Linked DNA regions of Homo sapiens: region 2 is linked to region 1. Evidence: fine-mapped expression QTL. A gene starts in region 1. The other region holds a variant in brackets. All regions are shown on one strand. Distances are between the middles of the regions. Region 1 holds the start of DTX3L (deltex E3 ubiquitin ligase 3L). Region 2 has its middle 30 kb from the start of ADCY5.

Evidence for each region.
Region 2: its variant is fine-mapped to the expression of DTX3L in fibroblasts (GTEx, PIP above 0.99).

Annotation. Positions count from the first base shown.
Region 1 is chr3:122,556,935-122,572,281 of GRCh38, forward strand. DTX3L (deltex E3 ubiquitin ligase 3L) reads left to right here and starts at 7,404. Exons shown (of 5, transcript NM_138287.3): 1 at 7,404-7,679; 2 at 8,925-9,136; 3 at 11,555-13,090; 4 at 13,521-13,738; 5 at 14,744-15,347. The coding sequence starts at 7,493. The coding sequence ends at 14,813. It overlaps PARP9 (poly(ADP-ribose) polymerase family member 9), which reads right to left and starts at 7,366. Exons shown (of 11, transcript NM_001146105.2): 1 at 7,311-7,366; 2 at 2,672-2,775; 3 at 1,500-1,533. The coding sequence starts at 2,686. It overlaps LOC105374071 (a long non-coding RNA gene), which reads left to right. Exons shown (of 5, transcript XR_001740869.2): 5 at 2,956-3,036. RefSeq lists a silencer at 7,152-7,251 and an enhancer at 7,292-7,411.
Region 2 is chr3:123,471,576-123,486,922 of GRCh38, forward strand. No RefSeq gene overlaps it. Among named protein-coding and RNA genes, the nearest start is that of ADCY5, 30 kb to the left of the region's middle. RefSeq lists a silencer at 8,942-9,041. The variant T/C (reference allele first, on the strand shown) is at 6,655.

The DNA.
Region 1 (15,347 bases):
GCCTCCTGAGTAGCCAGGGCTACAGGCTCACAGCACTACACCCACACCATCGTGTCCAGCTAATTTCCGTATTTTTTTCTGTAGAGATGGGGTTTCACCATATTGCCTAGGCTGGTCTCAAACTCCTGATTTCAAGCAATCTGCCCACCTGGGCCGATTGAAATAAGGTAGTATACCTGTTATCAATTGATGGTAAGCCCCAGTTTAGCTGGCATTTTTTCCCCTTTCTCAGAGGCATTTCCCAGAGTGCTCCAAAAGATTCAAGCAATCTGCCCACCTGGGTGGCTTCAAAAAGGCCACCATGCCTGGCCTACCCAACTTCTATTGGTCATTGATTGAGGCAGTTCCCTGGTGAGGAGGAGTAGGGGAGACATTGGACCAGCCAATGAGCACTGATACTGTCTGCTTCAGTTCAGTAAATAATTCTTTATGATATTCTAGTCTGGCACAATTTTGGTGAAATTAAAACTAATTGACTAAAAATTATTTACCGTATGTGGCAGACAAGAAGATGTGCTACTCAGATCTCCCTGCGATTGGCTATGAAGTGGGAAATACAGTTAGCTGACAGCCTCCAGCTGTTAGCCCCTCAGGGTTCATCTCAGCTTTCAGCCAAGGTCATGCTATTCTCAGGGCAGCCTCCATCAGTAGCTGAGCAAGGCCATTCATGCCCAACGTGGGACACCTCTAACAGTCAATCTCAGGCTTGCAGAGACTGTCGGGTTTTTATTACAGTCTGATGGCTAGTCTGCCCAGTCCGGCTTCCTCTCTTTACCTTTCACAGTGAATTTTTTGCACTCCTAATTCCATCTCAAATTCTGCTTCCTGGAGGACCCAGCTTGGGACACTGTATTTCATGGTGTCTAAGATATTGTTGTTACAATGCCTCTGAGAAAGGGAAAAAAATGCCAACTAAACTGGGGCATACCATCAATTGATAACAGGTACACTACCTTATTTCAGTATTGTTAAAATGTGAAAAAAAAATGTGCATCCTAAAATAGATAAAATGTGATCATTACTTTTATTTTGCTTCAACTCCCATTTCTAATCTGAGTCTCCTAGAAAGACCTCTTGTGGCCTCAATTACCCAAACGAAGCCGGAATTGGGTAGTCAGGCCCTATTGGCCTGAGCTTTGGTTGAAAATCTTTAATGGGGGACCCCTGGAATTAGGCCAGAACTATTTAGCTTGTATAGTACTCGTTGAGCAAGGAGACAATCAGTTGGCCACCCCATCTGGTCAATTCAGCCATAGGCTGTCGTTAAAAGAGTCTCACATTTACGGGCAAAGGAGAGGAATGGTGTAGGCCTTGAGAGAATATGCCTGCTGGTCGGTGCCACACCAACTCTGAAGCATGTGCGGGGGTCCCCACAAGGGTCTGCAGTCACGCACCTGAGCACTTGTAGGGGAGACATTCTTCTGTATTCCCCTTTCTCCACTGAGGAAAGATCTGAGCAAAGACTTTCTGAAACAAGAGTGAGAGCGAGGTAATCCTACCTGATTTTTCATTGTAAGCTGCTGCTCCGGCCACCTGTGAAAAATGAGAATGGCTTTCTTAAAAAATGGAAGTGGAATGACTACAGCTTACTGATAACCAATACACCCTAGTAAACACAATGCAATGGAAATCCTGCTCAAAGCACTGTGTTTGGGAGGGCAGGAAGCATGTGTTTTTTTAAATCTGCATGCCCGAAACACTTAAAATACTAAATGTGCCAGCAAACATTGGCCCTATGTCATTTCCCTAGGGGCCGATGCATTTCTTTTTTTAAATTTAATTTTATTGTTTTTCGAGACAAGGTTTCACTCTGTCACCCAGGCTGGAGTGCAGTGGTGCAATCACAGTTCACTGCAGCCTTGAACTCCTGGGCTGAAGCAATCCTCCCATCTCAGTCTCCTGAATAGCTGGGACTACAGGCATGCACCACCATGCCCAGCTAATTGTTTTTACTTTTTTAGAGATGAGCGGAGTCTTGCTATGTTGACCAGGCTGGTCTCGAACTACTGATTTCAAGTGATCCTCCTGGCTTCAGCCTCTGTAGTAACTGGGATTATAGGCGCCAGCCACCGCCAATGCATCTCAGTGCATCTCATTCTAATTCAGAATGAGATGAGGTTTAGAGATCAACACTTTAAAAGGCCCAAAAGTCACAGACCAAAATGACCCCAAACTCTCAGATAGACTCCAATCTCCAAAAGCTCATGGGGTTTCTCTAGACAGAAGACCTGGGGACATGAGCCTCATCAGCTCTGTCTCTCATCCACCAGCAAGGATCCACTTTTAATTGCCTTTGTCATGGTACAAACCTTAATGTGGAATTTTCAAGTTTAGTAAGTGACTTCTAATCTGATCTTTCTCTATTCCCTTCTTTTCATTCATCCTCTATTACTCTCCTTACCCCAACCCGAAAAAGCAGAATCACTAAATGAGCTGAGAATTAAAATGATTCTGAAAAATCATCCAGCTTCAAGTTGACACTATTTATTAGATTAGCATATTCTTGATTCCCCATTTCTCAAGAAGGGAGAAAGGAGAAAACTTTATTGAGCTATTAAAAGCAGATGAGGATGTCAACTGTTGGTGAACACCCCAGATTTCTTGCTGTTATATAAAGAAGTATTCATGTGCTGATCAAGGTTCATGACGTATACACATTTATGCTTTTTACCATGGAAAAGTCCATCCTCCAGGTCCCCGGGGGAGTCTTTAAATGTTTATTCCCTTTTGCGCTTCAAAGCATAGACTGTAGTTTCCAGATATGGTGGCCCACTTCTAGGAATGAATTAGAAAAGATGCAATAAACATTAGCCAGAATCTTAGGAAATTCGGTAAGAATATACTGTAGGAGGACTGAACATGATTTCTGATCTTGATGAGTTCTTAATTTCCTTGATAACGATGTACACATTGTTTTGCTGTTGTTGTTACTGTTTGCCTTCTACCCTTTCCAAGAGAGGTTCCAGTGGAAATCATAATGGCAGTTCAGAGAAGGGAAAATGCTCTACGACCTGGAACAGGAAAAGCTATATGGAGGAGTTGAGACTAGAGCCTGGTCATGAAGGATGCAGGAGGTTTTTACATATTTAGAAGAAGAGGGTGATAACAAAGTGGTGAGACTGAGAACAGCATTCAAAGAACAGTAAAGAAGACCGAGCTTATGAGTGAGTGAAGCCCCCTGGAGAGCGTTTGAAGAAAGAGGAAATGCCACTAGAGCCTGTGAGGGGGGTGTATTATTGAATTTGTGATAAACATCCTTGACCTAATGATAGGGGTATATCTGGTTAAAAGTCAGAAAATCTGGGAAAAATACTTTGTTATGATTTTCCATCTAATAGGTAGGAATTAAAGATTATGAATTTTTAGAAGACTGATGATGAAAATGCTTAAAGATACAGTTGCCCACACTTGTTGCTATATTTAGGCCTCGAAATGATTTCTTTGTTTGTTTTTTTGTTTGTTTTTTTGTTTTTTGAGTTGGAGTCTCACTCTGTCCCCCAGGAATGCAGTGGCTCGATCTTGGCTCACTGCAAGCTCCGCCTCCTGGGTTCACGCCATTCTCCTGCCTCAGCCTCCTGAGTAGCTGGGACTACAGGCGCCCGCCACCACGCCCAGCTAATTTTTTGTATTTTTAGTAGAGATGAGGCTTCACCGTGTTAGCCAGCACGGTCTCAATCTCCTGACCTCGTGATCTACCCGTCTCGGCCTCCCAAAGTGCTGGGATTACAGGCGTGAGCGACCGCGCCTGGTCGAAATGATTTCTAATGTCTTTGCAATAGAAACATTTTGTACAACCATCTACAGCATCAGAGCACTATTCTTACTCATCAAGGGAAAGCAGCAGGTCTAGTACAATCCTTTGCATTCTAAAATGCAAAGACAAGATGCATTTTTTGCCTCCAGAGGGCACTGCTGTTTTCAAAAAAGAAGGATGACTTCATCTGCTTTGGCCATGGGCTTTTGCTTTAAATGTTGCACCTGTTTCTGTCTTCAGGCCAAGTTTTACAGGCCTATGGATAGCCAAACAAGGAGCATAGTGCCCTAAGCATTCCATTTCTTCCATTTTAAAAACAGAAAAGCCTTCCCAACTTTCCATCACTGGTTCCTACTGTGTTTCCTTCTCTTCATAAGCAGCCAAACTTCTGGAATGAGTAGTGGACTCTCCTTCTGTCCACCTGCCCACTCAGCCTACTATAACCTGGCTCCCTGCCTCATTCCCAGCACCCTTTTGAAACTGCCAGTGGCCAGGCATGGCGGCTCACACCTGTAACCACAGCACTTTGGGAGGCAGAGGCAGGCAGATTGCTTGAGCTCAGGAGTTCGAGACCAACCTGGGCAACATGGCAAGACCTCATCTCTACTAAAAATACAAAAAGTTAGCTGGCCATGTTGGTGCATGCCTATAGTCCCAGCTACTTGGGAGGCTGAGATGGGAGGATCACTTGGTGGGAAGTTCAGGCTGTAGTGAGCTGTGATTGTGCCACTGCACTCCAGCCTGGGCAAGAGGAATGAGACCCTGTCTCAAAAAAAAGAAGAGAAACTGCTCATCAGAATCCCTCATGTGGTTAATGCCAATGGATTATCTTCTATCCATCTTTACTGGACCACTTTCTATAGTATTTCACTCTTTGATTCCTGAAATTCTGCTTTCCTGGCTTCTCCTATGCCATCTTCCCTTGGTTCTTCTATTACCCTTCACTTTGCCTTTACAGGCCTTTTCCCTGCGTTCACTTCCACCATCTCCCTCTTAATTGTTTGCCCCAGGATTCTGTCTAAGGCGTTTTTCATCTCATTCTGCATACTCCCCAGGAGTGATCTCATCCATTTCCATGGCTTCAACTCACCAATTGCAAATATGACTCTTATATCTGCAGTTCTAGGCCATGGCTCTCCTGAGCCCCATTTTTCAACTCCACCTGGAGGTCTCACAGTCCCCTCAAATTAGCCTCTGCAAAAGTAGACCTCTTATCTCCTGGTCCCCAATCCTCCATCCCACCCCCACCAAATCCATACTTTATCTCCTGGATTCTACAGCTCAGTAAATGATAATACCATTTACGTACTCAAATCAGAAATCTAGGAACTTTCCCTGAGTCTTTTTTGTCTCATATCTGGGACCTGACAAACTAAATCACTTTCAAATATGCCCCTTCCTTCCTCGCCCACTGACACTGCCTCACTTCAGAGTCTCAGCAACTTTTGCCTGAGCTGTGGCAATATACTCTTTTCTTTTCTTTTCTTTTCTTTTCTTTTCTTTTCTTTTCTTTTCTTTTTGAGACGGAGTCTTACTCTGTCGCCCAGGCTGTGGCGCGATCTTGGCTCATTGGAAGCTCCGCCTCCCGGGTTCACGCCATTCTGCTGCCTCAGCCTCCCTAGTAGCTGGGACTACAGGCGCCCACCACCACGCCTGGCTAATTTTTTTTTTTTTTGTATTTTTTTTAGTAGAGACGGGGTTTCACCATGTTAGCCAGGATGGTCTCGATCTCCTGACCTCATGATCCGCCTGCCTTGGCCTCCCAAAGTGCTGGGATTACAGGCGTGAGCCACCGCGCCCAGCCATCAATATACTCTTTTCAAAGATTTAAATGTACCTAGTTTGACATTTTATTGTTTGAATAGGTATTACATTTACATGGTTCAAATTTAGAAAATGTAAAAGGTTTCCTCCTGTCTCCGCTGCTAAATTCCCTGTCCAGAGTCAATCAGCGCTTCTCCTGTATTCTTCCAGTGGCATTTTTTACACGAAAGGTAGTAGCTTATACACACACTTCTGCATCTTATTTTTCCCACATAATGTATCCTAGAGATCTTTTCATGTTAGCACATAGAGAGCTTTTTCATTTTTCCTACTGCCCATTGTATTCCATTGTATAGATATACTATTATTATTAAACTGCTAGTCCCCCTATTTATGGGCATTAAAGAGTTCCCTATCTTTTGCTATTGTAAACAAGGCTGTAAAGAACATCTTTGTACACAGGTCACTTCACACAGGGGCTAATATATCAATGGGACAAATTCCTAGAAATGGAACTCCAGAACCAAAAAGTATATGCAGTTGTAATTCTGACAGTATTGCCAAATTGTTCACAGTAAAGACGGGCCCATTTCCAGTCTTACCAGCCATGTGCAAAAACCTTATCTCAGGCCTCTCTGCCGCCACTCATCCCTGCTTGTAAATGTGTCCTCCACACGGTTGTCAGCACCATATTTCTAAAATGCAAATCTGGCAAGTCATTTTCTTGCTTTCCCTGCTTAAAGCCCTTCAGGTCATCTTCACTGCTCTTCAAGGCTTTTCACCATCTAAATATGTCCTGTCCAGGGTGGACTATCAGCCTCACATAGCTACTGAGGCTACATGTGGCCAGTCTGAATCGAGATGTGATGTAAGTATAAGAAAAACACTGGGTTGCAAAGACGTGGTATGATAAAAAGAATGTAAAAATCTCATTACATGCTGAAATGATTAAGTTTTGGATATGTCAAGCTAAATAACATCATTACAGTTAATTTCATCTGTTTCTTTATCCTTTAAAAATTTCCTAAAAATCATTAAAATTAATTTCATCTGTTTCTTTATCCTTTAAAAAATATGGCTGCAAAAATTTTAGAATGAACCTACTGGCTCCCATTGTATTTCTGCTGGACAGTGCCCATCTAGGTAGGCTCTCCCTCCTTCATCCCCTCACCCATCTCCTCTCCTCCCAGGCCCCAGGCCCACTCTGTGCTTCAGACCACAGTGGTCCCTAAGCCTCAGGTGCTTTTCCCCCCAATCCTGTCCTCCCCATCTCGCCGCCACACTCAATTTATTAAGATTCTGCTTGAAACTTCCCCTTGGAGGCCTTGGAGAAGTTTTGCTCCTTGGTTCACAGGTCCGCCTCCCCTCACCAGCCCTTGACATCAGGGCCTTGCTCTGCTCTTTGGGCAGCAAGAAACAATTCAGTGCTGTTGGTTAAATCAAGCAATGGAGGAGAAAAGCCCGCAGAAGCCCGTCTAAAGGGTAGAGTTGGAGGGAGGGAAGGGGTAACAGGTCACAATTACCAGATGAACACATTCAAATTTTCAAAAATGGGTAAGTTTAACATGGATTCAGAATGTGAATTACTTTTTAGGATCAAATAATAGTGGTAACAGCAGTAAGAGTTACAAAGAATAAGAAACACAGGAGAAACTTACTTTCTTTGCATAGTCTACTCACAAGGGAGGCCTGGCCCTGGGACCCGGGTCCGCGCCCGTCCCCCTTCTCCCCGCCCACCTCGAGCCTGCAGGAGAGGGGACCCCGAGGGCCCAGAGGCACCGGACCTACTCACCCGGCAGGCCGCTCTCCTCGGTGCAGACAGCACAGGGAGGAGGGGGAAGCGGCTCTGCCGGGAACAGGGAGGGACCTCCAGGGAAGCGAAACTGAAACTTTGCGCCCAGTCCGCAGGGCGGGCCGCGCCTTTACCGCCCAGCTGCCTCCCGGAGCCCCCGCGCCCTCCCGACGCGCAGAGCCATGGCCTCCCACCTGCGCCCGCCGTCCCCGCTCCTCGTGCGGGTGTACAAGTCCGGCCCCCGAGTACGAAGGAAGCTGGAGAGCTACTTCCAGAGCTCTAAGTCCTCGGGCGGCGGGGAGTGCACGGTCAGCACCCAGGAACACGAAGCCCCGGGCACCTTCCGGGTGGAGTTCAGTGAAAGGGCAGGTGAGCTTCGGGCGGCCAGGCTGCGAAAGCCCTCTGGGGGCCCGGCCCCCGGGTTTCCAGGCGGACCCAGTTCCAGCTGACCTAGGGGAGAGGGCGGGAGAAAGTATGTCACTGTGCGGTGGCGGACAGGGACGGGGCCCTACTGCCAAGAGACTCACTGAGACAGTGAACACTCGGTGGAGGATGGGGCCTCACATGTGCCTGGTGCGGGTCTGGCTGACGGCGCCTTAGTGTGGATGCTTTCCATATCCTCATTCTAACTTAATTTCTCAGCTGTCATCTTCCTTCCCCCAGATGCCTGCCAGCTGCTGTCCTTGTCATTCAGGGATTCCACTTTTATGTTTTAAATAATGGTTCCATTGTTCCATCCATGAACAAAAGGATGTTCCATTTTGTGTTTTTGAGGATTACAAAAGTGATATATGCTCACTATAGAAATAAAAGAGTAAAAAAGAAAACAACCTGAAGATAAACAATGTGACCATTTGGTGTATTTCCTTCCTGCCTTTTTTTATGAATGCCAGCAAACACATGTATATTTACAAAATTCGGAGTCTGCACTTTTGATTCCTGCTGTTGTCACTTACCTGTATAATGAGTATTGAAATGGGAGACTGGGCCGGGTGCGGTGGCTCACGCCTGTAATCCTAGCACTTTGGAGGCCGAGGTTGGTGGATCACCTGAGGCCAGGAGTTCGAGACCAGCCTGGCCAACATGGGGAAATTCCGTCTCTACTAATAATACAAAAATTACCCGGGCATGGTGGTGCGCACCTGTAATCCAAGCTACTCTGGAGGCTGAGGCAGGAGAATCGCTGGAACTCGGGAGGCAGAGAGGTTGCAGTGAGACGAGGTCCTACCATTGCACTCCAGCCTGGGTGACAGAGTGAGACTCCGTCTAAAAAAAAAAAAAAAAAAAAAAAGAAGGAAGGAAGGGAGGGAGGGAGGGAAAGAAGGAAGAAGGAAAGGGGAGACTGGAGACAGTTTTAGAAACATGATGTTTAATCGGTGGACAATGTTCCATTGTCATTAAGCTTTCACTTCTATAGTAAAACTTAATCCGCACACTTTAGAGCTCTTAATAGCTCCCCGACTTTCTCCATCGCCAACCCACCATTCCAGGATGCAGGGAGCAGCCTTACTGGGAGGTGCTGGGGCAGAGTACAGACACAGGAATGAGAGGATTACTTGAAATCTCTCCCATTTTTATGTGTGTATATGTGTGTGTTTAATGTCTCCACTGAAGCTAAGGAGAGAGTGTTGAAAAAAGGAGAGCACCAAATACTTGTTGACGAAAAACCTGTGCCCATTTTCCTGGTACCCACTGAAAATTCAATAAAGAAGAACACGAGACCTCAAATTTCTTCACTGACACAATCACAAGCAGAAACACCGTCTGGTGATATGCATCAACATGAAGGACATATTCCTAATGCTGTGGATTCCTGTCTCCAAAAGGTGAGTATTGAAAGAAGGAGCTGGCTGTGCCTGCGCCTCCTCTCCAGTCACCAGCCTCATGTATTATTGATCCAACACCCATGTGCTGGGCACGTACATGGGAGCCAGGCACTGTTTTAGGCACTGGACACAGAGATGAATATAACAGACAAGGCCCCTGCTCTCAGGCAGCTTATACTGGGGGCCAGGTCATGCACAGAAAGACAGTAGGCAAGTAAACAAAATAAATAAAACCATTTTATTTATTTGGAGAGAAACAGCGCCAGGGCAAGCAAGGGGAAGATGGGGGTGGTGTTACTTCTTTTTTTCCCCCCAAGACAGAGTCTCACTTTATCGCCCAGGCTGGAGTACAGTGGCACAATCATGGCTCACTGCAGAGTTGACCTCCTGGGCTCAAGGGATCCTCTCACCTCAGTCTCCTGAGTAGCTAGGACTATAGGCGCCACTACACCCAGCCAATTTTTTTTTTTTTTGTAGAAACAGAGTCTCACTATGTTGCCCAGGCTGTTCTCAAATTCCTGGGCTCAAGCGATCTGCCCGCCTTGGCCTCCCAAAGTGCTGGGATTACAGTCATGAATTACTGCACCTGGCCTGGTGCTACTTCTAACCAGAAATCAGAGACAACTTGACTGAGGAGGTGATGTTTGGCCTGAAACTTGAATGATGACAAGATTCATTCAACAATAGATATCCACTGCCTACTGTGTTCCAGGCACTGTTATAGGAGCTGGGGAGGCAGCCAGGAACATGGCAGACTCGGCTTCCAGGGACGGCACCTTCTAGAGAGAGAAACAGACAATATTAGTAAACAATAGATATATAATAAAATGTCTGCCAGTCATACCTGCTAGGAAGAAGAATAAGTGACAGACAGTGACAGAACCACCATTTAAAATAGGATGTCTGGAAAAACCTCAAGTGAGGTGACATCTCTAGCCAAGTGGATTTCTGGGCGGAAAGTGTCCTAGAGGGAAGCATAGGTGCAAAGTCCCCAAGAGCTGACATTTTGAGGCCCAGAAGCTTTAAGGAAGCCAGTGTGGTGGGGAGGGCAGTGAGCAATGGAGAGAGGTGCTAGGAACTCGGGAAGGTACCCAGAAGACAGGCCTTTGGGGCTGAAGGTAAGGATTTTGGATTTTTAACTTAAAATGTTAGGGGATTCATCAGATAGTTTTGAGCCAGGGGAGAGGGCGATCTGGTTTATATTTCTAAAGGGTCACTCTGGCTGCTGTTGGAAAACTGAACGTAGAAAGGGGATAGAATGGAGAGTTAGAGCCTGGTTAGGAGGGGTTGCAGTGCGCCAGGTGAAAGATGATAATGGCATGCACTTTGGTGGCCTTGATGGAGGTGTGAGAAATGGCTGGATTCAGGAAACATTTTGAAGATCTAGAGGAAGGATCTTAACATGCAAAGTCCTTGAGAAGGAACAAAACATTAGGAATTTTGCTTTTATATTACAGTCAATTGGTCTCTGTCCTTTTTATCTTAACCTGGCGTGTCTTATATTTGAGCTTCTAAAGGCCAGGGTTTAGAAGGGTCCACAACTTTGCATGCAGTCGAGTGTTTAGTTGAAACAAGAATAAAGGAGGAAGAGTGAAGAAGAGAAAAAATAGTAATAGGAAAAGCCATTGCCCTCAGTTTTATGGCTCCCTTCCAAGTTCACAAACTTTTGTGAGGGCCACAACAACTTGCCCAGAGAGCACAGGTGCCTTCCCTTGACTGCTGTTCCCAAGATCAAACAGCTAGTGGCAGTTGTAGAACACGGATCTCTTGGCCATGGAGCTTTTAGAAATGCTCATGCCCAGGCTCCACTGCAGATTAGTTAACATCAGAATCTCTGGGGATGTGCTTGGGCTTTGGCTGGTTTGTTTTTCCCTGAATTCGCCAGGTGAGTCTTATATGCAGACAGGGCTGAGAACCTCTGGGATGTAGCGTGCTGTATCCTCTAAAAAGGATTTGAGACCAGGCACGGTGGCACATGTCTGTAATCCCAGCACTTTGGGAGGCTGAGGTGGGTGGATCACCTGAGGTCAGGAGTTCCAGGCTAGCCTGACCAACATGGAGAAACCTCGTCTCTACTAAAGATACAAAATTAGCCGGGCGTGGTGGCACATGCCTATAATCCCAGCTACTCAGGAGGCTGAGGCAGGAGAATTGCTTGAACCCGGGAGGCGGAGGTTGCAGTGAGCTGAGATCGCGCCATTGCACTCCAGCCTGGGTAACAAGAGTGAAACTCCATCTTGAAATAAATAAATAAATAAATAAATAAATAAATAAATAAATAGGATTTGAAAGAAGTTGCCCCCACTTGGGAAAGATGTAGTGGTTGTTTCTCTAGTCTCTATGCATTCTCCTGAAGAGAAGATGGTAGGCCTGCATGCTGAGAGGTTTTATTTGTTCCTGTTCCTTTTAAAATTTCAGATCTTTCTTACTGTAACAGCTGACCTGAACTGTAACCTGTTCTCCAAAGAGCAGAGGGCATACATAACCACACTGTGCCCTAGTATCAGAAAAATGGAAGGTCACGATGGAATTGAGAAGGTGTGTGGTGACTTCCAAGACATTGAAAGAATACATCAATTTTTGAGTGAGCAGTTCCTGGAAAGTGAGCAGAAACAACAATTTTCCCCTTCAATGACAGAGAGGAAGCCACTCAGTCAGCAGGAGAGGGACAGCTGCATTTCTCCTTCTGAACCAGAAACCAAGGCAGAACAAAAAAGCAACTATTTTGAAGTTCCCTTGCCTTACTTTGAATACTTTAAATATATCTGTCCTGATAAAATCAACTCAATAGAGAAAAGATTTGGTGTAAACATTGAAATCCAGGAGAGTTCTCCAAATATGGTCTGTTTAGATTTCACCTCAAGTCGATCAGGTGACCTGGAAGCAGCTCGTGAGTCTTTTGCTAGTGAATTTCAGAAGAACACAGAACCTCTGAAGCAAGAATGTGTCTCTTTAGCAGACAGTAAGCAGGCAAATAAATTCAAACAGGAATTGAATCACCAGTTTACAAAGCTCCTTATAAAGGAGAAAGGAGGCGAATTAACTCTCCTTGGGACCCAAGATGACATTTCAGCTGCCAAACAAAAAATCTCTGAAGCTTTTGTCAAGATACCTGTGAAACTATTTGCTGCCAATTACATGATGAATGTAATTGAGGTTGATAGTGCCCACTATAAACTTTTAGAAACTGAATTACTACAGGAGATATCAGAGATCGAAAAAAGGTATGACATTTGCAGCAAGGTTTCTGAGAAAGGTCAGAAAACCTGCATTCTGTTTGAATCCAAGGACAGGCAGGTAGATCTATCTGTGCATGCTTATGCAAGTTTCATCGATGCCTTTCAACATGCCTCATGTCAGTTGATGAGAGAAGTTCTTTTACTGAAGTCTTTGGGCAAGGAGAGAAAGCACTTACATCAGACCAAGTTTGCTGATGACTTTAGAAAAAGACATCCAAATGTACACTTTGTGCTAAATCAAGAGTCAATGACTTTGACTGGTTTGCCAAATCACCTTGCAAAGGCGAAGCAGTATGTTCTAAAAGGAGGAGGAATGTCTTCATTGGCTGGAAAGAAATTGAAAGAGGGTCATGAAACACCGATGGACATTGATAGCGATGATTCCAAAGCAGCTTCTCCGCCACTCAAGGGCTCTGTGAGTTCTGAGGCCTCAGAACTGGACAAGAAGGAAAAGGGCATCTGTGTCATCTGTATGGACACCATTAGTAACAAAAAAGTGCTACCAAAGTGCAAGCATGAATTCTGCGCCCCTTGTATCAACAAAGCCATGTCATATAAGCCAATCTGTCCCACATGCCAGACTTCCTATGGTATTCAGAAAGGAAATCAGCCAGAGGGAAGCATGGTTTTCACTGTTTCAAGAGACTCACTTCCAGGTTATGAGTCCTTTGGCACCATTGTGATTACTTATTCTATGAAAGCAGGCATACAAACAGTAAGTATTTCTCAAGTCCATGGGTTTCTTGCCACTATGCTACGATTACCAGGGCAAAAGAGACTGTCCTGTTGCCTATTAGACAATAGATTTCCCAAGGAATTATCTCCAGGGTCATGTGCAAGGGACTGAAATAGTGGTAAAGGTCACAATGTTTGCTGGTAATTCAAATACCTTTTGTGTCTATTTCTTAAGACAGAGAAAGGGTGGGTGGAGATTATATCTTGAGATGGGGGTATCAGGAAGGTGGACAGTGTTTCCAGCATGAATTCAAGGAAAGAGGAGAAATATGAGTTATTGGGAATATGAGCATAACTTCAATACCTTTCTTGCTTTTGATTTGCTTTATCTACAAATGAACACATCTATACCTATAGTAAAAATTAGACAGGGCACTCTTTTCACATGACATTTTCTTGTTCTCACACAGGAAGAACACCCAAACCCAGGAAAGAGATACCCTGGAATACAGCGAACTGCATACTTGCCTGATAATAAGGAAGGAAGGAAGGTTTTGAAACTGCTTTATAGGGCCTTTGACCAAAAGCTGATTTTTACAGTGGGGTACTCTCGCGTATTAGGAGTCTCAGATGTCATCACTTGGAATGATATTCACCACAAAACATCCCGGTTTGGAGGACCAGAAATGTGAGATCCTTTTGGGATGTAATGGCTGCTCAACAGAGTATAGGGATTATGAAATACGGCAATTTCTGGATGTGGATATAAGTAGACTCTATAGCAGTGGAATTGGTGTTTTGAGAGCTGCTGATCGGGGATGGTAATCTCAAAGACAGAAAGATTGGTCCCCATCAACTTCTACCCTGCCAGCTATAAAGTACTATGGAGTTATTTAAATTTTGCACCAAAGGACAGGGGGCTTTTGAATCCGAGATGAATACTATATAAGCTGATTTAATTTGAGGCGTTGTGTCTATCTGAAGGCTAGATGCTCGGAATGTCACTTTGCTTCCTTTTAAGGTCACCTTTCTTTTTCACCCCTTCCCCCACCAGTCCACAGAGAACCTGAAATCACTTGGCCAATAATATTCTAGAAAAAGTCTAAGTTGTGAGGAGACTATTGGTAGAAACTGTATTATACGAAATCCAATTGTTCTTTATGAAACCCAAATAGGATTCCTCAGACCCTTGGCACTAAAGAAAAAATATATACCCTGAGACTTTTCCAAAACCTTAAATTTGAAAATCCTACTAGCATGTGATTACGATGCCCCCCTAAAACACAGTATATTATTATATTTTTAGGAGAGTCACTACTTACCATAAACTGAAAAATTTTAAGAATTAACATAGACATGAAGCCTCAAAGTAAATCAACGTATTACTATTCATCTTGGATTCTCAAACCCCCTGCCCTTTGATGCGAAATGTAATAAATACATCATATTAATACTTTGTAGTTGGCAGGGTAGAAGCCAGCTTGAAAGGCAGATGCTGGCCAGACAGCTAGGCTCACTCGCTAGCGAAATGACTCGCATCTGCGAATTTAAAAGTCATGATACGTCATCCACCTTCAGGATTACTTGTGAATGTTTGCAACACTGGATATTAATTAAATCCTTAAATGCTGGATATCTATTGCACATATCCGAACAATTTGTGGTGACACTAAAGGAATTTTTGTTTCTTCAGGTATGGCTATCCTGATCCTTCTTACCTGAAACGTGTCAAAGAGGAGCTGAAAGCCAAAGGAATTGAGTAAGACAACTGCTGGAAGATGTCTTAAATCAAGCTTTCAAAAAAATATATTTTAGGAGGCTGATTTAATGCCAGTCTAAATCCTTATGTAGAAAGGACTTTGAAATTTTTCTTCTCAAGAAATGGTTTGTATAAGAATAACAATCTGCTAGTCTGTCATTTCTGGAGTGATACTTTTTTTTTTGAGACGGAGTCTGCTCTGTCGCTCGCGCTGGAGTGCAGTGGCATGATCTCGGCTCACTGCAAGCTCCGCCTCCCAGGTTCATGCCATTCTCCTACCTCAGCCTCCCGAGTAGCTGGGACTACAGGCGCCCACCACCATGCCCGGCTAATTTTTGTTTTTGTATTTTTAGTAGAGACAGGGTTTCACTGTGTTAGCCAGGATGGTCTCGATCTCCTGACCTCGTGATCCGCCCGCCTCAGCCTTCCAAAGTGTTGGGATTATAGGCGTGAGCCACCGCGCCCAGCCCTGGAGTGATACTTTTTATGGAAGACAAAAGCCCCCCAAATCTGTGTAAAATCTGCTGCAAAGGTGTCA
Region 2 (15,347 bases), 910 kb after region 1:
GTTGCTTTAAGCAGGCAAACGCTGGGGTAATTTGTTACATAGTAGTAGACAGCTAACACACTTGTCTGTCCTCACAAGGCCTGTCTCTGATCCTGCTGGAATTTGAAGCCAGTTATGTCTGACCTCAGCATCCATGATTTTTTTAAAAAATTGCAACTTTTATTATAGATTAAAGGGTACACGTGCAGTTTCGTCACTTGGGTAAACTGCATGATGCTGAGGCTTGGGATCTCAACGATCTCATCACCCAGGCAGTAAGCATAGTACCCAACAGGTGGTTCTTCAGCCCACATCCGCCTCCTCCCTCCCCTCTCTAGTGATCCCCAATGCTATTGCTTCCATCTTTTTCATGTGTATTCGATGTGTAGTTCTCACTTATAAGTGAGAACATGCAGTATTGGTTTTCTATTCTTGCATTAGGTCATTTAGGATAATGGCTTCCAGCTCTATCTATGTTGCTGCAAAGGACATGATTTCATTCATTTTTATGGCTGCATGGTATTCCATGGTGCATATGTACCACATTGTCATTGTCAATTTACAGTTGATGAGCACTTAGCTTGATTCCATGCCTTTGCTATTATGAATGGCGCTACAGTGAGCATACAGGGGAATGTGTCTTTTTGATAGAATGAACTTTTTTCCCTTGGGTGTATACCCAGTAGTAGGGCTGATGGGTCGAATGGTGGTTCTATTTTAAGTTCTTTGAGAACTCCAAACTAGAGTCCATGATTATTATTTTTTTTTTTTGAGATGGAGTTTTGCTCTTGTTGCCTGGGCTGGAGTGACCTTAGCTCACTGCAACCTGTGCCTCCTGGATAAAAGTGATTCTCCTGCCTCAACCTCTGGAGTAGCTGGGACTACAGGTGTGCACCACCACGCCCAGCTAATTTTTTGTGTTTGTAGTAGAGACAGCATTTCACCATGTTGGCCAGGCTGGTCTCGAACTCCTGACCTCAAATGATCCACCCGGCTTGGCCTCCCAAAGTACTGGGATTACAGGCGTGAGCCACTGTGCCCGGCCGCATCCGTGCTCTTAACCACTCCCCTATACTGCTTCCCCTGCACAGAAGAAACATAGTCAATGCTGCTTGGACTGAATTGAGACTACCCTGAACTGATAAGAAAGCTGAGGGATGCCTAACCCCAGTAGATTCTTAACCATTCTGGGCCGCAGTTTTCTCATATGAAAGATGAAAATGATAATAATACCTAATTTCATAGGGTTATTGTGAGGAGTAAACAAGTATACAATCATGAAGAAGAAGGTCTTCGAGCAATAACAGCCATTATTAGTATTAGATGAAATGACGTATGCAAACTTTTTTTTTTTTTTTTTTTTGAGGTGGAGTGTCTTGCTCTGTCACCAGGCTGGAGTGCAGTGGCGCAATCTCGGCTCACCACAACCTCCGACTCTCTGGTTCAAGCGATTCTCCTTCCTCAGCCTCCCGAGTAGCTGGGATTACAGGCATGTGCCACCATGCCCGGCCAATTTTTGTATTTTTAGTAGAGATGGGGTTTCATCATGTTGGCCAGGATGGTCTCGATCTTCTGACCTCGTGATCTGCCTGGCTTGGCCTCCCAAAGTGCTGGGATTACAGGCGTGAGCCACCTTGCCCAACCTAATGTATGCAAACATTAAGTGAAATAATACTTGGCTCAAGCTCCTCTGACAATCAGTGTTCACCTTTGCAAAATGGAGATACCAATGTTGTCATTCCTTGCTGTCAGGATTAGATGGACTGGCCCAGTGCCTGGCAAATACTAGAGGCTTAATAAATGGGCCAGGTGCAGTGACTCACACCTGTAATCCCAGCAGTTTGGGAGGCTGAGGTAAGTGGATCACCTGAGGTCAGGAGTTTGAGACCAGCCTGGCCAACATGGTGAAAACCCATCTCTACTAAAAAAAATAAATAAATACAAAAATTAGCCAGGCATGGTGGCAGGCATCTGTAATCCCAGCTACTCAGAAGGCTGAGGCAGGAGAATTGCTTGAATCTGGAGGCTGGAGGTTGCAGTGAACTGAGATCACGCCACTGCATTCAGCCTGGGTGACACAGCGAGACACCATCTCAAAAAATAAATAAATTAATTAATTAATTAAAAAATGGCATCCACAACATGATACGTCAACAGATTTTTTTTTAATTTTTTAATTTTTATTTTTAGAGATGTTGTCCTGCTTTGTTACCCAGGCTGGCCTCTAAATCCCAGCCTCAAGCAATCCTCCCACCTCAGCCTCCCAAAGTGCTGGGATTACAGACGTGAGCCACTGCACCCAACCCATTGACTGATGTTTGAAGGGCGGCACGTGGCAGATGAGTGATCTGTAATAGCTGTTACAGGGCACTGCTATGGATCCTGCTCATCGGAGACATCCCATTTCCCTGCCCTGGAGTCTGGGAGCTGGCTGAAGGTGGAGGGCAGGGTGAGGGTGTGGCATGAAGAGCTTGTGAATCGAGGGACATCTAAGAGGCTTGGCCCTTCCTCTTGGTCCTTGGGAATGTTCTCCTTCAGAGGCCCACAGCAGACCCACTGTGCTGGCTGCTGGCAGGACCCTCGACTCTCCAGTGAAGGGATTATGTTAACAGTCCCAAGAAGGAAATTGATTCCATGAAAATCCCCAATCCCTGGGGCTGGGAAACTTAATGAGTCTCAGCACAAACGAGTCCCCGCCAGTTCTCGTTCCAGTTGGATCTTTCTTGCAATGGCATGGTTTGTGCTTCAAATGTGCTCCAAAAGAAATAAATGAGTAAATAACACAAAAAAGATGGGCCTTACTCTGCAGCCCTATGTGGAAATGTTTGGGAAATTGTGATGACCATCTTTATTCAAAGATTTGGATATTTGTGAAACATGCTTGTATAACTTCTTTTGCCAACTTCTTGTTGAGTTTTTTTGGCATATTGAAGTATGAAATATCACAAAAGGGAAAACAAAAACACGTAGCCCCCAAATGACACTGGAACATACTTATTCAAAAAGTTCATCTGCAGAGCACCCCAAACTTTATCATTTTCACTGAGGTGGATGTGGGCTGTGAACTTAAGGATGGCAAAGGTGAGTTGTAATCTGGCTGGGACAGATCACTTCCCTTCTTGAATTTTCTCATCCACTAAGTATCAGGCTTGGACCTGATCAGTGGTTTTCACACTGGGTTCCTTGAAGCTCCTGGGGGTGCCCTGAAAGGGCTCCCAACCTGTTACATCCATCAGAACTGTTTCCCTTTCATCAGCCTCACATTTTAGAGATGAGATTCTCTAACTGGGAAAAGGGATTTTCCTGCTTAGGAAACAAAGGCTCGAAAGTTTCTTAGATCATCTGTAAGCTCCCGTGAAGTTCTGATACTGTGAGTCTGCGTTCAAAAGAGGGAAAAGGGATTGAAAATGGGATGCAAAGTATAAAGTCAAACTCAGAAAAGAACTTCCTAACAGCAAACAGCATAAGTCTCTGTCACAAGCAACGTGGAAGGAAAGCTGAGGAGTTTTCGTTTGCAGGGCTCTTTGAGGAGAACAGCAGAAGAGTCTGGACGCAGTGAGGAAATTGCCCGTGGCTGGAGGATTCCATGCTCCTGTGAAATTCCTAAGTGGGCCGAGCAATTCCTAAAAGGGGAAAGGCCTTGCAAGCCACAAGGCAAAGTCTACTTTTCACATTTCTTTCCTTCCACCTGGACTTACTCCTCCCATATTTCCAACTCGAGTTGTGCCCTTGACAAATGTTTGCTGAGTGCCTACTACGTGCCTAACGCGATGCGCGTGCTCGGGAGACAGCGCTGAACAAGTCAAGAATCGCTGCCTTCTCGGAGCTTCCCTTCTGAGAGGAAATGAGGCAGAACCGGAACTACTAGCCACAGTCACTTAGGGATGCCTGTGCCAGGACTCAGAGGGAAAAACATAGAGCAACAGAACATTTCCAGGGGAGTCGGACACAGAGGGCTCCTGGGATAGGCTTCCCGGAGAGGTGATGTTTGAGAGAAAACCGGAAAGACAGGTGAGAATTAACCAGGGAGAGAGGGAAGGATCCCTGCAGCGAGTGAGGAGCCCTCTCCAATGAAGGAAGTTATCGGGGCGCCCCAGAGATGGCTTCTCTGATGCACACACATGCTGACCATGCCTTGTGGGTTTAGCTCGTTTACAAGTTCCAGATCAATGAGTTCACTCCCTTGGTTGTCTCACTATCTGGATTAGCTCCCTCCACCTCCTCTAAACCTGCTGCAGACCTGCCTGGCTTTTCTCTGTGGCTCCCTGCCTCCTCCTGTCTTCTTATTTTGGCTGGAACCCGAGGAGTCCATTTTCACATGGTTGTCACTGCAGGGACCAGGGACAGGATACAAAGAACCAGAGAGGGTAAGGAAGGCAGGGGTGAAAAACAAGTGGGTTTCACAGATGAGCAAGCCGCTGGCCCGAGTGGGGGCAGGATGGACCCCATGGGAGTGAACTTGGACACTTGGAGGGGCTTTGAACTTTGGAGCTTCTCCCACCTTTGGAGCCCAGGACCCCTTCCCCAGCCAAGGGAATGACTCCATCCGAGGCTTTTAGAGGCGCCTCTACAGAGCGGGCATGTTCATTGGATATTAGCAGGGTTGCTGTGCTGTGAGACAGCCAGCACGGCAAGTGCTCAGTACAACATAGTTCCTTTTTTTTTTTTTTTTTTTTTTTTTTTTTTGAGATGGAGTCTTGCTCTGTCACCCAGGCTGGAGTGCAGTGGCGTGATGTCGGTTCACTGCAGCCTCCGCCTCCCGGGTTCCAGCGATTCTCCTGCCTTAGCCTCCCAGGTAGCTGGGATTATGGGTATGCACCACCATGCCCGGCTAATTTTTTGTATTTTTAGTAGAGACAGGGTTTCACCATGTTGGCCAGGCTGGTCTCAAACTCCTGACCTTAGGTGATCCGCCCGCCTCAGCCTCCCAAAGTGTTAGGATTACAGACGTGAGCCACAATGCCCAGCCCAACATAGTTCTTAACAACAGCCACAGTAGCGGCTCTGGCTGAGGAACTGATCCCATTGTGGAGACTGAACCAGGATCCCACCTACCTTGCCCAGCTGTGAAAGCAGAGGCGGGCAGTAGGACTTCTATTTTTGGCTGTTTTGTTTTTGTGTTTGTTTTTTGGGTAGTGAAGATTTAGGAAACAGAGATCAGCAGCATAATTAAAAGAAGCTAATAACAAAATCAATCTGCCGTGTAATTATATATGTAGCCGCTTTTTGCTGCATGGTAATTAGTCATAAATAATAAACAGCCGATAAAAACAAAGGTAGCTGATTTGCCTTTCACACAGCCAGGCCATGGTCACAGCCTTCCTCTTTTTGTCTTCTTAGTGCCCCTAGACTGGCCATGGATCAGGGCTGAGAGTTTACCTGATGCCAGGGAGCATTCAAGCACACTCAATGCTGACACTCATCTGTCGTGCCTCAGTTGCCCCTATGCCCCAGGCCATTCCTTTCATCCTCTCATCAACCTCAGAAACTGCCCACATCCCCCCACCGTGGGGGTGTCCTTTGGCTCCATTCAGCTGCCCCTTTGTGTCTGCTCTGACCTCAGGCTGCCTTCCTCCTCCAATGATCAAGCACTCTGTGTGCTCCTCCCCGATGTGCCAGGCTTTGCAGCAGGTGCTGGAGGGACAAAGGTGAAGGATACCAGTTAGATTATCAGGAGAAAACTGTGAAACATTTGGGTGTATGATGATGAAATATTCTTGCTCTGTGATGTCTCTATACACGTACATATTATTGCTCGTGACCAAGATATTTTTGTAGGACTCAAAAAGGGTTATTTTAAAAGAGAGAGAGAGAGAGAGAGATGAATAAGATCCAGTTCTTGATCGAAAGGAGCCAATAGGCTGGGAGAGGAAACAGCCTCTATACAGCTCATCCCGACGCCCATGCTAGAGGGGCGTCTACAAAGGCCGCGGAAGCAGATGTGCAGGCAGCGCTTTCACTTGGGTGAGAAGAAAGGGGTTGGGAGACAGCTCAGAGCAAGTTTCATTGAGTTGCATCTTGAAGGGTGAGGAGGAGTTTGGCAGGTGGCAGAGGAATTGTAATAATAGCTCACATTTATTGAGCACTTATGAGGCACCAGGTGCTGTTCTAAGAACCGTATGTGTGCTGACCTATGTAACCTTTGAAATCACGCGGTAAGGCAGATGTTATTGTCTTCATTTTTAGAGGAGGAAACAGGGTGTAGTGAGTTGAGTTTTGTTCCCACCAAAAAGATGTGTCTAGGTCCTGACCCCTGGTCCCTGTGACTGTGACTTTATTTGGAAATAAGGCCTGCAAATATAATTAAGGATGGAGATCTCATTTTCAGATATTAAGATCTTATCATGAGATTACATACTCATTTCTTGATGAGATAATTTTGATTTAGGGTAGGCCCTAAATGCAATGACTGGCGTTCCCATGAGAGAGAAGAAAGGAGAGGGGGGATTTAAGGCACAGAGACACAGGGGTGAATGCCATGTGAAGGGAGGGGCAGACACTGGAGTGAAGCTGCTGGAAGCAAAGGAAACCTGGAGTCTCCAGAGGCTGGAAGTGGCAAGCAAGGGTTCCCCCTAAAGCCTTCAGGGGTAGCATGGCCCTGCCTGTAGCTTAGTTTCAGAAGCCGTAGAACAAGCTCTCCTCTGGAGAATCATTGTCTTGAATCACTGTGAATGA[T/C]CACCATCTCTTTTTCTCCCTCCCCACAACAGAGGTCTTTCAGTTCCATATCAACGAAGGGTAAGGCTACCCCCTTTCCCCAGGGTAAAAATCAATGACCCAGTGAACCAGGTCCCAGACTTGCTTTAATGCACTACAAACAAGAACCCTATGAGCTGATGATCCTTTCCCTGAACAGCAGGCTGTTCCCACTAGTGTGTGCCTGGGCCACCAGCAACAGTTTGACTTCAAGAGTCACTCAGTAGGGGCAGTCCTAGGGCTAAGGGAGCCCCCTAAGTGGAGAGACAGGAAAAGGCTGGGCTCCTGCTTTGGGGAGGAGTCTCAGGGCTTTAGGCCAGCAGCAAGCTTGGCTGCCTGTCCTGTCGGGAAGAATAGAGACTCCCTTGCAGGCTGGTCCACACCTCCAGTGCCACTGGACTATTCAGATGGACGGTGCTGGAGCAGGCAGAGCTTTCAGGTGGACAGTGCTGGGGCAGGCAGGGCTTTCAGGTGGACAGTGCTGGGGCAGGCAGGGCTTTCAGGTGGACAGTGCTGGGGCAGGCAGGGCTTTCAGGTGGACAGTGCTGGGGCAGGCAGGGCTTTCAGGTGGACAGTGCTGGGGCAGGCAGGGCTTTCAGGTGGACAGTGCTGGGGCAGGCAGGGCTTTCAGGTGGACAGTGCTGGGGCAGGCAGGGCTTTCAGGTGGACAGTGCTGGGGCAGGCAGGGCTTTCAGGTGGACAGTGCTGGGGCAGGCAGGGCTTTCAGGTGGACAGTGCTGGGGCAGGCAGGGCTTTCAGGTGGACAGTGCTGGGGCAGGCAGGGCTTTCAGGTGGACAGTGCTGGGGCAGGCAGGGCTTTCAGGTGGACAGTGCTGGGGCAGGCAGGGCTTTCAGGTGGACAGTGCTGGGGCAGGCCAGGGGGCGGGACTTGGGCAAAGGGCACGTTTCTGCGTCTCCACCATGTTTTTGTGTTTTCGCTTCTTTGTCCTGATTCTCAAGAGACGGCTGGGGACTGGCTGTTTTTTTCTAGGGAGGTCAAGTCTTGCGGTAGCAGGAAGGAGACTTGGTGCTCTCATGGGAGGTGAGAGCAGCAGCCAGGACCTGGAGAACCTGAGGATGAGGGCGGGCAAGGTTTGGAAGCCTGTGGAAAAGAATCATATCATGTTTCCTGGGCCCCTGAGCGCCTGGGCTTGGGAACTAATGGACCACAGGGACACGCAGGTGCAGGTCTAGAAGCCCGTGAGTGTGCTGAGCAGCTCCACCAACCTCTCAGTGGGAATTACCCCCACGGAGGGCCAGCTGCCCAGCTCAGGGCCTTTGTAGGGCTGAGGAGGACTGGACTCCTGTCAGGGCAGAATGCAAGCGGATTTCCTCCCTTCTTTGCTTAGATTCTCCATCTACTGGTCCCTGCCTGGCATGCCTTCCCCTCCCAGGGTAGCTATTACATTTCTGCCAGGGTCTAAGCAAGAAAACAACACGGCTCCATTGTGTCAGGTTCTGAGAATTCTTTTTGTGAGCGTCAGGTTGGTGTCAGTGTCCCTAGGAGGGGCTGAAGGAGCCCGCCAGTCCCAAGGGAAAGGGACCCAGCCTGCAGGTGCAGAAGGAGCTGTATCAGGCCCTCAAGGCTAGCACTGAGCAAGACGGCAAAAATGAGGAATAGAGATGCGGGGATTTTATCATTTTGTGGGCACTTGAATGGGTTGCTTTATGTTTGTGACAACAAAGGGAAGAGGATTTCATTGTTGAGCACTTACTTTCTCTGTGTGATCAAAAGATTGACTTCAAAACGAGAGTTCTATCTCCAGGTATTTGCCTATTGCGGGTGTTGTTTGGGCTCTGCCATGACGCGGTGCTCATGGGTAACCAGCTTGGGGGCCAGGCTGGGCTGCGGCAGCTGAAGTGATTCAAGATGGCGAGAGAGGGGCTGAATGCTCAGCACGGGGCACCGTGGTCTGGGAGCTACAGTAAAAGCGGTATAATTAGCACAGTCATGAAAGGTGTAAGTTCTGGAACTCCACAGCCTCCCTTTATAGCCAGGCTCTACCACTCACCTGCTGGGTGATTTTGCGCCAGTTATTTAACCTTTCCTCAACGATTCCTGTTTCTTCCTCTGTAAAATGGGAGTCTAACAGTGTTGAAATTGTAGAATTATTGGGATAATTTCAGGAGTTAACGCATATGAAAAATATAAACAGTGCTTGGCACAGTACATGCTGAGCAGTATCAGCAGTATTCCCTGTGGTCCTGGGCAGGGGCAGACACCTGGCTTTGGGGATTTTGGGGAAGGAGGGGGAAGCATGTCCTGAGATCCTGGGTGACTCCTGGGTGGAGCCCAGCCTGGGCCTGACTAGTGTCTAGCAGCCCGATGAGGCTTGTCACTTAGGGGAGTTCCTGTCCTCAAGTGTCAGAGGCATTGGCACCTCTGGGCCCCACTGGGGGTAGCCTGTGCACACGTGCTATGTCCTGGGACCACAGAATGGGGAAGTGGCTGAGGTTTCTGCAGGGCCAGGAGAGGAGGCCACAGTCTCTGCTCTCCACTGAAACAAACTCAGCTGTCTTTGACCACTTCATGAGCTAGGGAACGGGGCAACCTTGCAAACGAGGTATCATTTTCTCTCTATTTTTTACGTGAAAGAGGCTCAGGAAAGTGGTGAAGACAAAAAGTGGAGCAGGAATCGAACTCACGCCCAACTCCAAAGCATCACAAGGCTCTGTCTCCAAGGAACCAGGCAAGGAAGGGCTGGGAGATTGGTATTGGGCAAAAATAGAACCACATAAGTCAATGATACAGGGTACTCAAGAGGGGTGCGAGAAGAAGGGAGATAACTCAGAAGACTGAAGAGTGAAGAGTGAGAAACCGAGGGAGGAAAAGGAGAAATGAGGCCCTATGGTACTAGGGGTGTCTCTGCTCTATCTCTGCTGGAATGGAAGGTCCCAGGTATGTGGAGTTCTAAATCCAGAAATCTCCAAGGCCCAGGCAGGGAACTCAAATGAATGCACAGGCCTGGTGAGGTGACCTGGAGAACCCACTTGTAGAAAGGGGACAGCCTCCACTCAGTCCCCGCGGGTGTGCCGAGGCGTGCAGGAACCAGGCCCAGGCTTGCCGGAGTGCCACATCTTCTTTCAAGAGAAGCAGGAAATTCATTTTTTAAAATGTGAACTCTCATAATTTTAAAACGCTGGTAACCAAAACAATTTAAAATATCATTTTAAGAAAAACAAAAACAAAAACGAAAAGCCTACTGGCTGCCAGGATACAACCTCTGCTTTATGCCACTTGTTTACATGAGGGGCTCATGGTCAGATTGCAAGTCAATCCAGGGCTTCTCAAGACCCCAGGAGGAGCAGAGTGTGTGTGTGTCAGGGCGGTGAGAATTGAGGACTCTGAGGAAGAAAGCATCCAGATTTCCAGAGAGAAGGAAACAGAGTAAGACCAATGCATTGCTACCAGAAAATGCAAAAGGGACATTTGCCTTTGACCACTGAGGTGCCTTCCACCAGCCCTTCCCTGTCACAGTGGGGCAGGGCCTTCAGCTCCACTGGAGGATATGAGGATACCCGTGCAGAGAGGGCTGAGGGAGGCAGGGAGGAGGGATGCTTGGGGGCGGTGGAAGCCGCTCAGCTGGGCTGCTGAGAAGTGAATCACATTTCCATGTGATAGGTGCAGTTCACACTTTGTAAGGGAGCAGGGAGCCTGACTTTTCTAAATATACCAGGCAAGCCAAACAGCCACCTGGCTTGGGATTGACATTCCTGACAGGAGGCTGGGCAAGCCCTTGGACTCCGTATCTGTAGGCTGCGCCTCAGGATGCTGCTCTGACTAGGGGAGAGTGGCTGAGGCAGGAACTGGGCCTTCTGGAAGGTGCCCACAGATATCAGTTCTTGGGTAAATACATGTAGGAAACTTGGGAAAACCCTCACAGACCCAGATTAAGCTGTGCAACCACAAGCTTCCAGAGGGGTTACTGGAAACTCCTGGTGGACCTCCCTCTTTCTGTTGCCCTCGGTCCTCCCCGGGCTGCCTGAAACAGCGGCCCCCTGGTTGTGTCCTCCAAGCTTATTCGCGGCAGTATTCACGACATCCTTCTCAGGGCCTGGGAGGGTCCCCCCTAAATCCACAATCTCCCGGAAAATCCCCACCTGAGATCACAATGTGGGCAGCCCTGACTCTGCCTGCCTTGGCAGCAAGCTCAGGTCCCTGGAGGAGTAGGAAGTTACCTACTTGGCTTACCCTGAAATGCCCTGCACACCATCCTGCAGGCTGTAGGGTGGGGTGGGGGGATGAGGAGCGGCTCCTATCCCTCTGTTGCCCAGGCTGGAGTACAGTGGCGCAATCTCAGCTCACTGCAAGCTCTGCCTCCCGGGTTCAAGCCATTCTTCTGCCTCAGCCTCCCAAGTAGCTGGGACTACATGCATCTGCCACCATGCCCGGCTAATTTTTGTATTTTTAGTAGAGATGGGGTTTCACCATGTTAGCCAGGATGGTCTTGATCTCCTAACCTTGTGATCCACCCACCTCGACCTCCCAAAGTGCTGGGATTACAGGCGTGAGCCACCGTGCCCAGCCAAGTGGCCCCTATCCCTCTTGGCATCAGTTTCCAACTCTGTACAAGTGGAGACTGGAGGTGACAACGCCATTCTGAGGCCCCTTCCACGCCTGAGATGGCATAGTTCCCTCAGGTACGATGTGCGCTGGGGGCTTGTGGTGCTGTAGCGGGTAGGGGCAGTCTTCCGTGGAGCGGGTGGGGCTGCTCCTCGGCTTACTTTGGGCATGAGGTAAAGCAGCCCCAGCTGTGGGCAGGCAATGTCAGTGTGTGCTGCCGGGCCCAGGAGGGCTTTCAGGGAAAGCTGGGGCTTGATGAGCTGCCCTAATGCTGGGAAGAAGAGGCAGCAATGACCCAAAGAAACATAGGCAATGTAGGCTTTAGGCTGTGGGCAGAGGTGCCCCTGGCATGGCCCACCCAGCCCAGCCCTGGGGAGGGGGCTTGGTCCCAGGATGCTGCAGATAAGGACCTGGAGGCCTGTGAGAATCTTGTGAGCAGACTCCGAGCTGCCAGCAGCTCTGCTAATGACCGGGACCCGAGGGTGATGCTGGGTCCCAGGAAAGTCAGGAAAGTTTGGAGCTCAGATGCCCAGTGCTCTGACTACAGCAGCCATGGAATGGTGCTGCAGCCTGGGCTCCAGGAGGTGGGGTCCTCCCAGCACCTCGACGTCTTATCACATTCACCGTGCTTGTCAGGAGCCCCAAGGGCTCAGAGAGGCCTCCAGTCTCTAAGGAGCTTCTGCAACCTTTGAGAGGCTGCCTTGGTGGGCAACTCACATGATATTCTGCCACAAATGAGGCTTGACCCTGGTGGAGGGAAACAGTTGTGGGCTTTGGGGTCAGTGAGATCTGGTTCAAATCCTGAATCACTCCTCAGAGAGACTTCATCTGACCACACTTTCTAACACATTGCCTTTCTAGGTTTCTTCACAGTCCGTTAAACTACCTGATTTAATCATCTGTTTATGAGCTTCCTGACATCTCCCAAACCCCAGTGAAAGGCTGGGCCCTGAGAATACAGTGGGAAGCAAGCCTGATGAAGTTCTTACCCTTGGGGAGCTTTCCGTCCTTGGTGGGCAAACAGGTAAGAGGCGGCAACGAGGACTGTGATGGGGAAGCATGCTCATTGTCACAGAGCAACGAGGACTGTGATGGGGAAACATGCTCATTGTCACAGAGCAAGTTAGCAAATTATTTAAAGTGTTTTTTTTTTTTTTTTTTGAGACGGAGTCTTGCTCTGTCGCCCAGGCTGGAGTGCAGTGGCGTGATCTCAGCTCACTGCAAGCTCCGCCTCCCAGGTTCCAGGTTCACGCCATTCTCCTGCCTCAGCCTCCCGAGTAGCTGGGACTACAGGCACCCGTCACCACACCCAGCTAATTTTTTGTATTTTTTTAGTAGAGATGGGGTTTCGCCATGTTAGCCAGGATGGTCTCGATCTCCTGACCTTGTGATCCGCCCACCTTGGCCTCCCAAAGTGCTGGGATTACAGGCGTGAGCCACCGAGCCTGGCCTAAAGTGTTTTTAAGAAAATTATTATGTTTTCGTAGAGTCATGGTCTCACTATGTTGCCCAGGCTGGTCTTGAACTCCTGAGCTTAAGTGATCCTCCTACCTCAGCCTCCCAAAGTGCTGGGATTACAGGTGTGAGTCACTGCACCTGGCAAATTATTAAACATGTTGCTGGACACACACTTATGCTGAAAAATTCTTCATTGTTGTCTGAAATTCAAATTTAGCTGGGCTTATTTGTTTTGACAACCCTGGCACTGTGGGAGCATCTAGGAGGAGCACCATAGCCAGTTCTGGGACCTGGGGCAGGTATTTCCTGGAGAAGGGGGCCCCAGTCACACCTGAAGGATGGAAATGAATTAGCAAGGTGGAGGGGGAATGAGTCTTCCAAGTGGAGGGAATGTGGTGTACAAAAGCCAGGATGTGACAGCCAAGCGCCCTGAGAGCCTGATAGGCTTTCTCAGGATGGGGAGTGGAGGGGCTAGGGACACAGGCAGGCAGGCACAGGTCGATGAAGGTCTTAGCTCATGTTTGGGAGTCTGGACTTTACCCCAAGAACAACACACTTACTGAAGGCTTTTAAGTGGAGAAAACATGATCTCACATTTCGTTTTGTTCATTTGGGTTTTTTTAAATTTTGAGATGGAGTCTCGCTGTGACGCCCAGACTGGAGTGCGATGGCGCAATCTCTGCTCACTGCAACCTCTGCTTCCCGGGTTCAAGCAATTCTCCTGCCTCAGCCTCCTGAGTAGCTGGGACTATGGGCATGTGCCACCATGTCTGGCTAATTTTTGTATTTTTAGTAGAAATGGGGTTTTACCACATTGGCCAGGCTGGTCTCAAACTCCTGACCTCAAGTGATGCGCTCGCGTTGGCCTCCCAAAGTGCTGGGATTACAGGCGTGAGCCATCACGCTTGGCTACATCTTGCATTTTTAAAAGTTGATTCTGGCTGCTGTATGGAGAATGAATTCGGGAGACCAGAAGTGGAAGGTGAGAGGCTGGTTAGGAGGCTTCAGCTGCCATCCAGCTGAGAGATGATGGTGGCGTGGACAAGAAAGGAGGCAGTGGAAGAGGGAAGTTGATAGATTGGATAGATTCAGTCCATCCTCAGCAGACAGAATCAACAGGATTTAGCTACTGATTCAAAATGAAGGGGGCTCGGGGCCAATCAGGGAGCAGAAGAGGAAAAGTGACTCCCAAGTTCTTGACTTGAGCAACTGGACGATGGGATGCCATTCAGCGAGGTGGGGGAGACAGGAGGAGGGCAGGAGGAGGAAGAGGAAGAAAAGATTGGTGGCAGAGGAAGAGGAGGGTGCTTCATTTTGGATAGGTTGAGCCTTTGGTGCTCATGGCATACCTCAGTGGCGATGGCCAGGAGAAGTCTGAAATGATGCAGGCTTAGACAGAGGCCTGAGCCACCAGCATGGAGATGCAGCTGGAAGCCACGGGAGCCTTGCTGCTCCTCTCCAGCGCCTGCTTCAGAAACCTGCAAGGCTGGCTGGGCAGGGACAGGGCTGAACCAGAGTCTCTGGACAGGAAGCACTGGGGCCTAAGCTGAACCCTTTCCCTAGTGCTCCATCCAGTGGGGCAGCTCCCCCTGGTCCTTGCGGATGCCTGACAGGTAGGAGTGTGGACTCCTGCAGCCTCACCTTCTGATTTTTCTTAGATGGTTACATGATGTCTCTCAGTTTTAAAGTGTTTATAACTGGTTCCACTTTAATACAATGTGGGCAGAACAGAATACATCTGTGGGCCAGATATGCTCTGGGGACCACTGGTCAGGGGTCTGGGGTTCGAAGTGAGAGGAGATGCTGAACAAAACCCTCAGGATCAGGCACCTTTAAGGCAATGTTCCCCCAAATTAACCCAGAAGCCCCTGCATCAGAATCACCCATGGAGTGTGCCTAAAAATGGAACCCCAAGCTCTGTCTCCAGCGATTCAGATTCAGAAGGCCTGGGGAAGGTCCAGGAATCTGATTTTAACCAGCGCCATAGGTGCACACTCAAGTCTGAGAACCTCTGAGTTGGGGGGTTGGCAGGGGAGACAGAGAAAGGTTGGTTTAGGCAGGAGAGAACCAAAAGAACAGGATCTCAAAAGAAAAGGTCATTTCAGGAAAGATGGCTGGCTGATGGGAAGGAAAGATGTTGGCTTCCTGGGAAGGATTCCAAAGTCCATCTTCATCCTTCTCCAACACATCTTCGTTCCTCCCTAAGGAAGAGGAATGTTGATCTTAATGTTCAGTTCTGAGATTGTGATGGAGCTGCATTTGCTAGTGGGAGTGATGGAGCCAATGGGCATTAAGAGGTCTGTGCACAGGGGTGTGGTTCCCTCTTCTGTCTCTCCAGTCCTAAGTGGTAAGTGGAGCGGGGTGGGCTCTCTTCTTGGATGCTTTCCTGTCCTTCCTGGCCCTGGCCCCCACCAGCCGAGCATGGCGGCACATGCACTCAATCTTTATGAATTTCTGTCCCGGAGCTGGGGGTGTCGGAGCAGCCTTTCTCCCCATTTCAGTGGATAAGAGCTAAGTGCTAGGATGGAGAGTGGGATGGGGTCGGGTGAGAGGTGAATTGAGCAGGTCTCACAGTTTCCTGTGCTGAAGCCACTACCTCTCACTGGTTTAGGAAGCAGGAGTGTTCTGTGAGGTTCTGCCCAGACTACCATAA